4 linked regions of the Homo sapiens genome follow. The protein of the gene in region 4 purifies or fractionates together with the protein of the main gene of each other region. This does not show direct contact. Each region holds a gene or a part of one and is shown on either strand. Other genes may lie near its edges.

Evidence for each region. Proteins that work in one complex are often made in the same cells at the same time.
Region 1: the proteins of SLC14A1 (region 4) and DSG2 purify together in Homo sapiens (affinity purification with mass spectrometry; one large-scale study listed by BioGRID and IntAct). This does not show direct contact.
Region 2: the proteins of SLC14A1 (region 4) and BCL7B purify together in Homo sapiens (affinity purification with mass spectrometry; one large-scale study listed by BioGRID and IntAct). This does not show direct contact.
Region 3: the proteins of SLC14A1 (region 4) and ABCA3 purify together in Homo sapiens (affinity purification with mass spectrometry; one large-scale study listed by BioGRID and IntAct). This does not show direct contact.

Annotation. Positions count from the first base shown.
Region 1 is NC_000018.10:31,504,677-31,508,176, reverse strand, and holds part of DSG2 (desmoglein-2 preproprotein), read right to left. Parts: intron 1-3,500.
Region 2 is NC_000007.14:73,544,191-73,547,690, reverse strand, and holds part of BCL7B (B-cell CLL/lymphoma 7 protein family member B), read left to right. Parts: intron 1-3,500. UniProt on the Homo sapiens protein: Positive regulator of apoptosis. Plays a role in the Wnt signaling pathway, negatively regulating the expression of Wnt signaling components CTNNB1 and HMGA1.
Region 3 is NC_000016.10:2,278,555-2,281,728, forward strand, and holds part of ABCA3 (phospholipid-transporting ATPase ABCA3), read right to left. Parts: intron 2,956-3,174; coding exon 2,827-2,955; intron 2,668-2,826; coding exon 2,473-2,667; intron 577-2,472; coding exon 389-576; intron 1-388. UniProt on the Homo sapiens protein: Catalyzes the ATP-dependent transport of phospholipids such as phosphatidylcholine and phosphoglycerol from the cytoplasm into the lumen side of lamellar bodies, in turn participates in the lamellar bodies biogenesis and homeostasis of pulmonary surfactant.
Region 4 is NC_000018.10:45,750,601-45,753,020, forward strand, and holds the end of SLC14A1 (urea transporter 1), read left to right. Parts: 3' UTR 1-1,577; coding exon of another isoform or gene 1,578-1,622; 3' UTR 1,623-1,920; downstream 1,921-2,420. UniProt on the Homo sapiens protein: Mediates the transport of urea driven by a concentration gradient across the cell membrane of erythrocytes.

The DNA.
Region 1 (3,500 bases), about 14 Mb from region 4:
CCATTTTATGGTGTTGGGAAAACTGGCTAGCCACATGCAGAAAACTGAAACTGGACCCCTTCCTTACACTTTATACAAAAATTAACTCATGATGGATTAAAGACTTAAATGTAAGACCTAAAACCATAAAAATCCTAGAAGAAAACCTAGGCAATACCATTCAGGATATAGGCATTGGCAAAGACTTCATGACTAAAACACCTAAAGCAATGGCAACAAAAGCCAAAATTGACAAATGGGATCTAATTAAACTAAAGAGCTTCTGCACAGCAAAAGAAACCATCATCAGAGTGAACAGGCAACCTACAGAATGGGAGAAAATTTTTGCAATCTATCCATCTGACAAAGGGCTAATATCCAGAATCTACAAGGAACTTAAACAAATTTACAAGAAAAAAACACTCAGCCCTATCAAAAGGTGGGTGAAGGATATGAACAGACACTTCTCAAAAGAAGACATTTATGCAGCCAACAAACATGAAAAAAAGCTCATCATCACTGGTCATTAGGGGAATGCAAATCAAAACCACAATGAGATACCATCTCACACCAGTTAGAATGGCGATCATTAAAAAGCCAGGAAACAACAGATGCTGGAGAGGATATGGAGAAATAGGAATGCTTTTACACTGTTGGTGGGACTGTAAATTAGTTCAACCATTGTGGAAGACAGTGTGGCGATTCATCAAGGATCTAGAACCAGAAATACCATTTGACTCAGCAATCCCATTACTGGGTATATACCCATAAGATTATAAATCATTCTACTATAAAGACACATGCACACATATGTTTATTGAGGCACTATTCACAACAGCAAAAACTTGGAACCAACCCAAATGCCCATCAATGATAGACTGGATAAAGAAAATGTGGTACATATACACCATGGAATACTATGCAGCCATAAAAAAGGATGAGCTCATGTCCTTTGCAGGGACATGGATGAAGCTGGAAACCATCATTCTCAGCAAACTAACACAAGAACAGAAAACCAAACACCACATGTTCTCACTTATAAGTGGGGAGTTGAACAACGAGAACACATGGACACAGGGAGGGGAACGTCACACACTGCGGCCTGTTGAGGCTGTGGGGGTAGGGGAGGGATAGTACTAGGAGAAATACCTAATACAGATGACGAGTTGATGGGTGCAGCAAACCACAATGGCATGTGTAAACCTATGTAACAAACCTGCACGTTCTGCACATGTACCCCAGAACTTAAAGTATAATTAAAAAAAAAGAAAAAACAAAAAAGCAAAACGATACTTTTTCTTTTCCTTGAAGTCGTTGGATTGCTCAAACAAGCAAACTAACTAAAATACAATTTCAATTCAAAATAGCATTTATTAAATGACTAGACATGTAAAAAATATTTTACTCTTTTATTGGTAGGTGTTTTCTGTAATGGCCACAAATGCTTTTGGAATTAGGCAAAATATAAATAAAGCTGTATAACAGACTTCACAAAATTTGATAAACAAAAATTATAGGTTGTCTCCACTCTTTTGCTGCAATATATTCCTGAACTGAAAAGTAAAATGAAGAAAATGATTTCTTTTCACTGGGCAGTTTAAGAAAACCAAGAGCTTCAGACTGTCCTTTTTTACCATTAGATGGCACTGGCCTGTCAGTAAGGCAAACTGCAGGAACTACCAGAAATTAACCGACAGGCAATTCCAAGGTCTAAAGTGGGAAGCAGGCGTTTCATTGGTCTCAAATAAGTGGATCAGCAAAATTGAAAAGAGTGAAAATCAAGGGCTTTAGAAAGTTATATGTACAGTTTTGCAGGATTATATCTCTGAAATGAGGTAAATCTTAATTTACATTTCTTGTTTTTTTCCTTTCTAGAATGATTCTAATTTGCAGTGAAATTAATTATCTAGTTCCAGAAGTTCGGACCTTATTGATGACTCACTGTAGCAAACTGCTGTAAGGGGAATTCACGATGATGCCTCTGGGTTGACAGACAGGCATTTGGTGCCAGGTGAACCTGGGTTTGATTCAGTTTCACCCATTATTAACTTTCATTAAATCCAGTGACTGGCACACAGCGGATATTCAAAAAATGTCAAGTTCTTGTCCTTATACTCCTTTCTCCACTGTAAGCTCCAGGATTGCAGGGGGCAGTTCACATGTCCTTAGAAGACTGTTGGTCATATAGTAGACGCCCAATTTGTGACTGCTAAATGCATAAAATTTAAACAAAAATTTACTACTCGGCCAGGTGCGGTGGCTCACGCCTGTAATCCCAGCACTTTGGGAGGCTGAGGCGGGCCAGGTCAAGAGACCAAGACCATTCTGGCCAACATGGTGAAACTCTGTCTCTACTAAAAATACAAAAATTAGATGGGCGTGGTGGCGTGCACCTGTAGTCCCAGCTACTCGGGAGGTTGAGGCAGGAGAATCGCTGGAACCTGGGAGGCGGAAGCTGCAGTGAGCCGAGACTGCACCACTGCACTCCAGCCTGGTGAAAGAGAGAGACTCCATCTCAAAAAAAAGAAAAAAAAAAAAAAAGAAAAAAAAATTACTACTTAACCTATCTGGGCATTAAATAATTCTCTTAAACACATGAAATCCATATCATTATTCCAGCTTTTCTAAACACAGAAAGATACTTTAACTCACATTTTTAAAGAATACGTCCGTGCCCAAGGCATTTAGCTAGTTTATAGATAAAAGATACAAAGATCTTGCTCTGAAGAAGCTTACAGTTTAATAGGAGGATCAAACTACTATGAGGTAGGAAACCTTAATTGTATAACTGACGGCTATAAAAATAGTTCTGGGGAACTCAGAAAAGGCAAGATTACTTCCTTGCGGGGAAATCAGGAGAGGTTTAGCAAGGAGATAGCAATGGGCTTGGCCTTGGAAATGGAAGATAATCTGTTTCTGTGCATACAGGAGGAAGGAAAACGCACAGATGAGGGACTCCATGTGCCAGAACATGGAGATATTTGGACAAAAAATGAGAAGTAGTGCAGTTTGGCACCTAGAACTATACGATGGTGGCAAGTAGAAAATAAGGACAAAGCGTTGAGCTGAGGCTCTTCACTGATCTTATAAGGAGTGGAGAGTCGTTGCCAGCTTCTGATTAGGGAGACTATGTCGCTAGTGATTCTGAAGATTTTTTGGCAGTACTGTGCAAGATAAAAGGCAGGAGACAGTTCAGAGATTAAATTACTAAGTCAGGGAGATGGAATGAGGAACAGTATCAGGGGAATGGCAATGAGATAGACAGGTAGAAGTAGGAGTCTTTATGGGGACAAAAATCCTTGGCAATGCCCTGTGTGGGGATAATAGGGAAGGAGTCAGAGGGTGCCAACGTTTTCAGTCTGAGTGGCTAGAAAGATGCAATTTCCAGAAGACAGATTGTAGACATGTTAAGCTTAGGTCCTGGGGAAAGTATCTGAGTAGGGCGGAGAGATGCTACATAACAGAGAGCAGGGCAGTGCGGCTCAATGACGAGCATGGATTGCCTGGCCACTGGGGACATT
Region 2 (3,500 bases), on a different chromosome or scaffold from region 4:
ATTTTACCTGTATATGAAATTCTAGGTTCAAAATTATTTTCTTTCAGCACTTTGAAGCTATTACTGAATTGTACATCCAGTGTCGCTGTTAAGAAATGTGATGTTATTCCCATGCTTGAGTCTTTGTAGGTGATCTACTTGGCTTCCTGGAAACTTTAGCATTTCTTCTATATTTGATCTCCTAGGAATTCCCTCAAAATATCCTGTAATATTTCTTTTCCTTTTTTTTTGAGACTGTCTCACTCCATAGCTCATGCTGGAGTACAGTGGTGCAATGATGGTTCACTGTAGCCTCAAATTCCTGAGCTCAAGAAATAGTTATGTCTCCACCTCCCAAGTAACGGGGACTACAGGCACGTGCCACCACGCCTGGCAAACTTTTAAATTATTTGTAGAGACAGGGTCTTGCTGTATTTCCCAGGCTGGTCTCAAACTCCTGGGCTCAAGCGATCCTTCTGTCTTGGCCTCCCAAAGTGCTGGGATCACAGGTGTGAGCCACTGCACCCACGCAGCTGCTTGCTTGCTTGCTTTTTTTTTTGAGATGGAGTTTTGCTCTTGTTGCCCAGGCTGGAGTGCAATGGCACAATCTCAGCTCACCGCAACCTCCACCTACCAGGTTCAAGTGATTCTTCTGCCTCAGCCTCGCGAGTAGCGCTTGCCTCACCATGCCCAGCTACTTTTGTATTTTTAGTAGAGATGGGGTTTCTCCGTGTTGTCAGGCTGGTCTTGAACTCCTGACCTTAGGTGATCCGCCCGCCTTGGCCTCCCAAAGTGCTGGGATTACAGGCGTGAGCCACCACGCCTGGCCAACTGCTTTATTTCTTAACTTTTCTCTCATTCATTTCATTTCTTGTCTTTCCTGGTGCATTCTGAGTTTCTCAACGCAGTTTTTGCTCATTAATCTTTTATTTAGCTGTATGTATTTCAATTAACCTCATTCACTTAATTTTTATTTGAGCAATTGTATTTTTCATAACAAATTGCCTCAATTGGTTCTTCCTCAAAACGACTTTTTTTTTTTTTGAGACAGAGTCTCGCTGTGTCACCCAGGCTGGAGTGCAGTGGCATGATCTCATCTCACTGCAGCCTCCACTTTGCAGGTTCAAATGATTCTACTGCCTCAGCCTCCTGAGTAGCTGGGATTACAGGCATGTGCCACCATGCCCAGCTAATTTTTTTCTATTTTTAGTAGAGACAGGTTTCACCATATTGGCTAGGCTGGTCTCGAACTCCTGACCTCAAGTGATCTGCCTACCTTGGCCTCCCAAAAAGTGCTGTGATTACAGGCTGTGAGTCACTGCCCCTGGCTAAAACAACTTTTCAATATTATCCTTATCTTTCTGAGCAAATCCATGTTTAATTTCAGTTATTCTGCTCCTTCTGGTACAGACTGTTCTGTTTATCAGGGTGCCTGTGTTCCTCCAATCTCTGGTGAGTTTTATGCGTGCACTCACCTTTTATTCCCTTGGGACTCTCAATTGCATTGGCTGGTAATGTGTAACTACGAGGAGGACGGAAGCCTGATCCGTAGTTTTTCTTTCTTTTTTTTTTTTTTTTTTGAGATGGAGTCTCGCTCTGTCACCCAGGCTCGAGTGCAGTGGCACGATCTTGGCTCACTGCAAGCTCTGCCTCCTGGGTTCACGCCATTCTCCTGCCTCAGCCTCCCAAGTAGCTGGGACTACAGGCACCCGCCACCACGCTCAGCTAATTTTTTTGTATTTTTAGTGGAGGCGGGTGAAAACCGTGTTAGCCAGGATGGTCTCAATCTCCTGACCTCGTGATCGGCCCACCTCGGCCTCCCACAGTGCTGGGATTACAGGCGTGAGCCACCGCGCCCGGCCAGTTTTCCTTTCTGTAAATGAATTTAGGAGGTTGAGGTTAGCCTCAGGGTTCAGCCTCTCCCTTTTGCTCTCTGCTGTCCTCTCTGGCTCCAGGGAACCTCCTAGCACCAACTGTATGGACTCTGCCTTTATCTGAGAGCAGCCATCCCAAGAAGTTCTAGGATGCCAAACTCATGGAGTTGATGGGGCGTGGTTCTGGAGCAACTGTTTATTCCCCCATCCAGCCTGGCTCTGGCCATTACCCACAGGGGTCAAAGGTCAAGCAGTTAAATCTCTTGGGCATTGTGTATAGACAGGAGTAGATGCTGCTAGAAAACCCCCTTTCCTTGGCCGAGTGCGATGGCTCACGCCTGTAATCCCAGCACTTTGGGAGGCTGAGGCGGGCGGATTGAGACCATCCTGGAGCCAGGAGATCGAGACCATCCTGGCTAACATGGTGAAACCCCATCTCTACTAAAAAATACAAAAAATTAGCTGGGCATGGTAGTGGGCGCCTGTAGTCCCAGCTACTCGGGAGGCTGAGGCAAGAGAATGGCGTGAACCTGGGAGGTGGAGCTTGCAGTGAGCCGAGATTGTGCCATGGCACTCCAGCCTGGGTGACAGAGCAAGACTCTGTCTCAAAAAACAAACAAAAAATTGAGTTATTAACAAAAATTACGTTACTAATATAATGCATCTACCGGAAATGTATAAAAAGTGTGAACTGGTAAATTTGAGGCTACTCAGATTTAAACTTTTGGCTTTTGGGATGCTCTCATTTTCATATGCTTGGATTTACTCTGGGCTTTTTTTTTTTTGAGTTAGGGTCTAACTGTGTTGCCCAGGTTGGAGTGCACAGTCATAGCTCACTGCAGCCTCAAACTTTCAGGCTCAAGCGATCCTCCCACCTCAGCCTTCTCAGTAGCTGGGACCACCAGCCTATGCCACCATACATGGCTCATTTTTTATTTTTTTGTAGAGATGGGGTCTTACTATGTTGCCCAGGCTGGTCTCAAACTCCTGGGCTCAAGGGATCCTCCCACCTCCGCCTCCTCAAGTGCTGGGATTACAGGCATGAGCCACTGTGCCTGGCCCTTGGGCTTTCTTGTTGCAAGCTGGTGCTTACCTGCCCACTGTGGTTGCCCTGCACTTATAACCTACATCTTTCTTGAAACAAATGTTATAGGTAAAAATAAACATGGGGTGATCATTTTGTTTTTTGGGTTTTTTTGTTTGTTTCTTTTTGAGATGGAGTTTCGCTCTTTCGCCCAGGCTGTTATGAAGTGGCAGAATCTTGGCTCACTGCAACTTCCACCCCCCAGGTTCAAGCGATTCTCCTGTCTCAGCCTCCAGAGTAGCTGGGATTACAGGCACATGCCACCATGCCAGGCTCATTTTTGTATTTTTATTTATTTATTTATTTATTTATTTTATTTTTTGTTTTATTTTATGTTTTTTTAGATGGAGTCTCGCACTGTAGCCCAGGCTGGAGTGCAGTAGTGCCATCTTGGTTCACTGCAACCTCCACCTCAAGCAATTCTCCTGCCTCAGCCTCCCAAGTAGCTGGGATTACAGGCACATGCCACCACACTCGGCTGATTTTTGTATTTTTAGTAGAGATAGGGTTTCACAATGTTGGCCAGGCTGATCTTGAACTCCTGACCTCAGGTGATCCATGCG
Region 3 (3,174 bases), on a different chromosome or scaffold from region 4:
CCCAGCAATTGCAGAACAGCCCTAGTGAAGAGGAAGGAGCTGTGTGTGCACCTGGAAAGCCCACCGCATAGGGCTGGAGGCCCCAGAGAAGGCTGTTCCCAGGGGCCCGGTGCACGCACCTACATGGGAAGACATCTGCCTGCACCTAAAGGGGACCTGCCGACCCTGACATCTCTCACTGCTGGCTTTGTCCCTAGGTGGCAGGCACTGTCAGGGCAGTCCCTTTCCTACGTGGAGCTACCTGGGTCACACCACCACATCCCAGCTCCATCCTGGAGCCACAAGCAGGAGCTCTGGCTGCTGACCTGAGCGGTCACTCCCAGCTCTATGCTATGGGGACCTTGATTCTGACTCCACTCTGGGAAGGGCCAGGGCTCGGGAGGTGCACCTGTACGTCCTGACCAGCTTGTTGGCATGTGGCTCCAGCAGCAGGCCCCGCAGAGTGTTCTCCACGCAGGCCCCGATGTGGCGCTCAGGGATGCCCCGGAGCCGAGCGTACATGACCAGCATCTCCCGGCCTGTCATGTGGTCCAGCAAGGCATCAAACTGCGGGCAGTAGCCGATCCGCTGCCGCACCTGGGGTCGGAGCATAGCCGGGGAGGGAGGCGGGTTGGAGGGAAGCCTCCTTCCTCCAGAGGACCACGGGGACTACCCTTGAGGTGCCCACCACTGCGCCTGTCTGTGGTTCCTGCCAGTGTGTGTACACGGGGGCGCTGGAGCTATGCACAGGCCGTGGTGGCTGCCCACAGTGGAAGCTCTTGGAACAGGGACACAGGAAGGATGTGCCTGGTGCAGGGAGGCTTCCAGAGCTGCTCTCAGAGCCTGGTCCAGGACAGGCAGCCATGGGGTTAGGTGGTGCAAGAATGGCCTTTACGTAGAAGCAGACTCAGAGCTGGCTACCCACTCATTCACACCTGGGACATCTGATGTGCTAGGACTCTTTCTTCTCCCTCTAAGAAGAAAGATTTGTGGGCACCACGTTTGGGGTGAGTACTGCTTGGTCAGATGGTGCAGCAGCTGTTCTCTGCACAAGTGACCACGTCCAGCTGAATTAAGACGTGCCTGCTGCCATCTGCTTAGCTACCTTCAGCAGCTGGTCGGGGGCAGGAGTGCCTGGGTTCTGTGGATTCCAGAGACTGGATTTCTTTTTCTTTACCTTCCTTCTTTGGGGTTCTCAAGCTTCCAGAATTTTTTTTTTTTTTTTTGAGACAGAGTCTTACTCTGTCTCCCTTACACTGGTAGAGCGCAGTGGCATGATCTCGGCTCACTACAACCTCTGCCTCCCAGGCTCAAGTGATTCTCATGCCTCAGGCTCCCGAGTAGCTAGGATTATAGGCACCTGCCACCATGCCCTGCTAATTTTTGTATTTTTCTTTGGTAGAGACAGCATTTTGCCATGTTGGCCAGGCTGGTCTCGAACTCTAGACCTCAAGTGATCTGCCTGCCTTGGCCTTCCAAAGCTGGGATTATAGGCGTGAGCCACGCTCCCAGCCCAGAATCTGTTTTTAATCAGTTTGGGGAAAGTCTTAGCCACTACCTTTTTGGCTACTACCCCCTGCCACTCTCTCTCTCTCTTCCTTCTGGAACTCAGATTACATGTACTGGGGACTTCTCACCCTCTCCTCCATTGCTAGATCACATACGGTTTTCTCTCCCCTGCATAGATTTTCAATTGCATAATTTATTTCTGTAGACACAGTGAGTTTATAATCTTTTATAATCTGGCCTGATGATGCAGATCTAACGCCTATGTGCTTGTCCCCCCATGGGGCCTGTGTCTATTGCTTCCAGCCATGGTACCATCTCCTCTGTTTGTTTGCTGTGCATTGCCTGTAAGCCCTGGAACCCTCTATGGGGGAGTCTGCAGCCTAGGATGAGGCTTTCCTCCCGAGAGGGCCTGCATGTGCTCTGGCCCAGGGCCTCTGCTGTCCAGGCACCCCTGGTGTGAGCTCAGGAGAGGACTCCGCGGCCACTTCTCAGCCCCAGGCCCTGCTTACCATTTCCCCTGCTCTGCTTGGCACACTTGAATTCCCATGCAGGCCCCGGGCAGAGGTGCAGGAGGGCTGCCTCTGGTCCTTCTGCGGGGGAGCTGGTGGGGCTCAGCTCAACATGGGAAAGCTGGGCGGGCCCAGGGCCTTCCATCCCTTCACTCAGCAAGGCCTCTAACCCCACACCTGAGCTGCCTGGACACAGAATGGCCTCTGCACAGAGGTGGCTGTCAGTGCTGAATGCGCCTCTCTGGGCTCACGGATGTTGGCACCCATCTCTCTCCCCTCCCATCACCTGCTAGTTCTGGCGAAGCTTAGCTTTAGCTCATTACCTTGTCTCGCTGTCCAGAGGCATGTGCTGGGCCCATTTCAAGCCACAGATGCAGCAGCTGTTTGGGGACAGCATCCCTCTGTCCCTGCCTCCAGGGTGCCCCCTCCAGCCATGCCTGTCTCACCCCTTCAGAGCCTCCCTGGCTGCACCCACCTTTCCGACATCAGAGCTGATTCTGTGACCCCCGACAAAGGCATCCCCAGAAGTGAGGCTCTCCTCCCCGGTCAGCATTTTGAAAGTCGTGGTCTTCCCGGCTCCATTGAAGCCCAGCAGGCCGAAGCACTCCCCTTTCTGCACCGCGAGGGAGAGCCTGTCCACGGCCAGGAGGGGCACCCGCTGCTCGTACACCTGCAGGCACCCAACAGAAAACACGGAATGCGGAGGCCTGGACGCAAAGCAGAGCAGTCTGAGCCTCAGCGCCGAAAGCTTCCAGGGATGGGGTCGGACCCTGGGGACAGCCAGGTAGTCAGCTGGCAGGAAGGACTCCACCCCAAATTGCAAGGGTACCTTGGAGAGCTCCTTGATAATCAGAGGTGTGTGGAGCAGGGAGTCCGGACTGGGGGCCAGGATGCGGGTCCTCTCGTCCGCTACATCTTGGTCCTCAGGAAGCACAGGCATCCGGGTGTATAATTCTGTCTGATTGACCAGGACAAAGACCGCATGCGTGAACCCAGCCGCAGGGCGGCTTCCGTGGAGAAGGGAGGGGCGGGGGTGGATGTGGGAGGTCTGGTGGGACTAAGGCCTTCAAGGCTTCTCGTCCCAATCTCAGGCCCCACAGGTGCGACTCAGACCTTTTACTAGAAGACACAGTGGTCTTACGGGGCTAAACTAGCATCCAGGAGACATAAACTATCT
Region 4 (2,420 bases):
TTGTCAATCAAAATTATTCTGTATTGCAACTTTTCTCAGAGATTGCAAAGGATTTTTTAGGTAGAGATTATTTTTCCTTATGAAAAATGATCTGTTTTAAATGAGATAAAATAGGAGAAGTTCCTGGCTTAACCTGTTCTTACATATTAAAGAAAAGTTACTTACTGTATTTATGAAATACTCAGCTTAGGCATTTTTACTTTAACCCCTAAATTGATTTTGTAAATGCCACAAATGCATAGAATTGTTACCAACCTCCAAAGGGCTCTTTAAAATCATATTTTTTATTCATTTGAGGATGTCTTATAAAGACTGAAGGCAAAGGTCAGATTGCTTACGGGTGTTATTTTTATAAGTTGTTGAATTCCTTAATTTAAAAAAGCTCATTATTTTTTGCACACTCACAATATTCTCTCTCAGAAATCAATGGCATTTGAACCACCAAAAAGAAATAAAGGGCTGAGTGCGGTGGCTCACGCCTGTAATCCCAGCACTTTGGGGAGCCCAGGCGGGCAGATTGCTTGAACCCAGGAGTTCAAGACCAGCCTGGGCAGCATGGTGAAACCCTGTATCTACAAAAAATACAAAAATTAGCCAGGCATGGTGGTGGGTGCCTGTAGTTCCAGCTACTTGGGAGGCTGAGGTGGGAAAATGACTTGAGCCCAGGAGGAGGAGGCTGCAGTGAGCTAAGATTGCACCACTGCACTCCAACCTGGGCGACAAGAGTGAAACTGTGTCTCTCAAAAAAAAAAAAAAACAAACAAAAACAAAAACAAAACAAAACAAAACAAAACAAAACAGGTAAGGATTCCCCTGTTTTCCTCTCTTTAATTTTAAAGTTATCAGTTCCGTAAAGTCTCTGTAACCAAACATACTGAAGACAGCAACAGAAGTCACGTTCAGGGACTGGCTCACACCTGTAATCCCAGCACTTTGGGAGATGGAGGTAAAAGGATCTCTTGAGCCCAGGAGTTCAAGACCAGCTTGGGCAACATAGCAAGACTCCATCTCTTAAAAAATAAAAATAGTAACATTAGCCAGGTGTAGCAGCACACATCTGCAGCAGCTACTCAGGAGGCTGAGGTGGAAAGATCGCTTGTGCACAGAAGTTCGAGGCTGCAGTGAGCTATATGATCATGTCACTGCACTCCAGCCTGTGTGACCGAGCAAGACCCTATCTCAAAAAAATTAATTAATTAATTAATTAATTAATTTAAAAAGGAAGTCATGTTCATTTACTTTCCACTTCAGTGTGTATCGTGTAGTATTTTGGAGGTTGGAAAGTGAAACGTAGGAATCCTGAAGATTTTTTCCACTTCTAGTTTGCAGTGCTCAGTGCACAATATACATTTTGCTGAATGAATAAACAGAAATAGGGAAGTAAACCTACAAATATTTTAGGGAGAAGCTCACTTCTTCCTTTTCTCAGGAAACCAAGCAAGCAAACATATCGTTCCAATTTTAAAACCCAGTGACCAAAGCCTTTGGAACTATGAATTTGCAACTGTCATAGGTTTATGGATATTGCTGTGGAGAAGCTCAATTTTCAGTGTTTGAACTGAACCCTTTCTTGTTAGGGAACGTGTGAAAGAAGAATTGTGGGGAAAAAAAAGCAAGCATAACCAAAGATCATCAGCAGTGAAGAATCTAGGCTGTGGCTGAGAGAACCAGAGGCCTCTAAAATGGACCCGAGTCGATCTTCAGAACAGGGATCTACCATGCAGGAGCTTCTTGTGCTCACACAAATCTGTAAATGGGAACATTGTACATTGTCGAATTTAAATGATATTAATTTTCTCAAGCTATTTTTGTTACTATTTTCCTAAAATTGAATATTTGCAGGGAGCACTTATACTTTTTCCTAATGTCTGTATAACAAATTTCTATGCAAGTACATGAATAAATTATGCTCACAGCTCAGTTTTGTATAATGTGCCATTTATAGCCATCATGTATATGAACAATCACAGGCATAAGTAGGTATCGCTTATGTTGCACGTGCTAGAATCCTTATTCCTTTCTTACACTTGGTAATAGCACCAGATGTATAGTTGAGTAAACCCTTTTCAATTTCAGATTGGCAGGCCCATCCCCTTGGGTATCCTCTCAACTATCCATTATTCTTTCAACTCCTGGATGAGAATGAATAACTGAGGACAGTTGTTCAGGACATGCTCCTAACACTTTGAGATCAATATCCCAAGAGCCACTTCTATGCATTCCCAGACAGGCCCTGGGCACCACCATCAGGGCTGACCCTGGGCCACAGCATGCCTCAGGGGTCAGCTCTCTAGGACCAGCCACTTGTCAGAATGTTATCCCCTGAGGCTGAAGCCACAGCCATGCTTGTCTCTTCCACAGAAGCACTTCTCTTCCACACCCTTTCACCACAGTTGGCAGATTTGAAAGAAAATATGGTA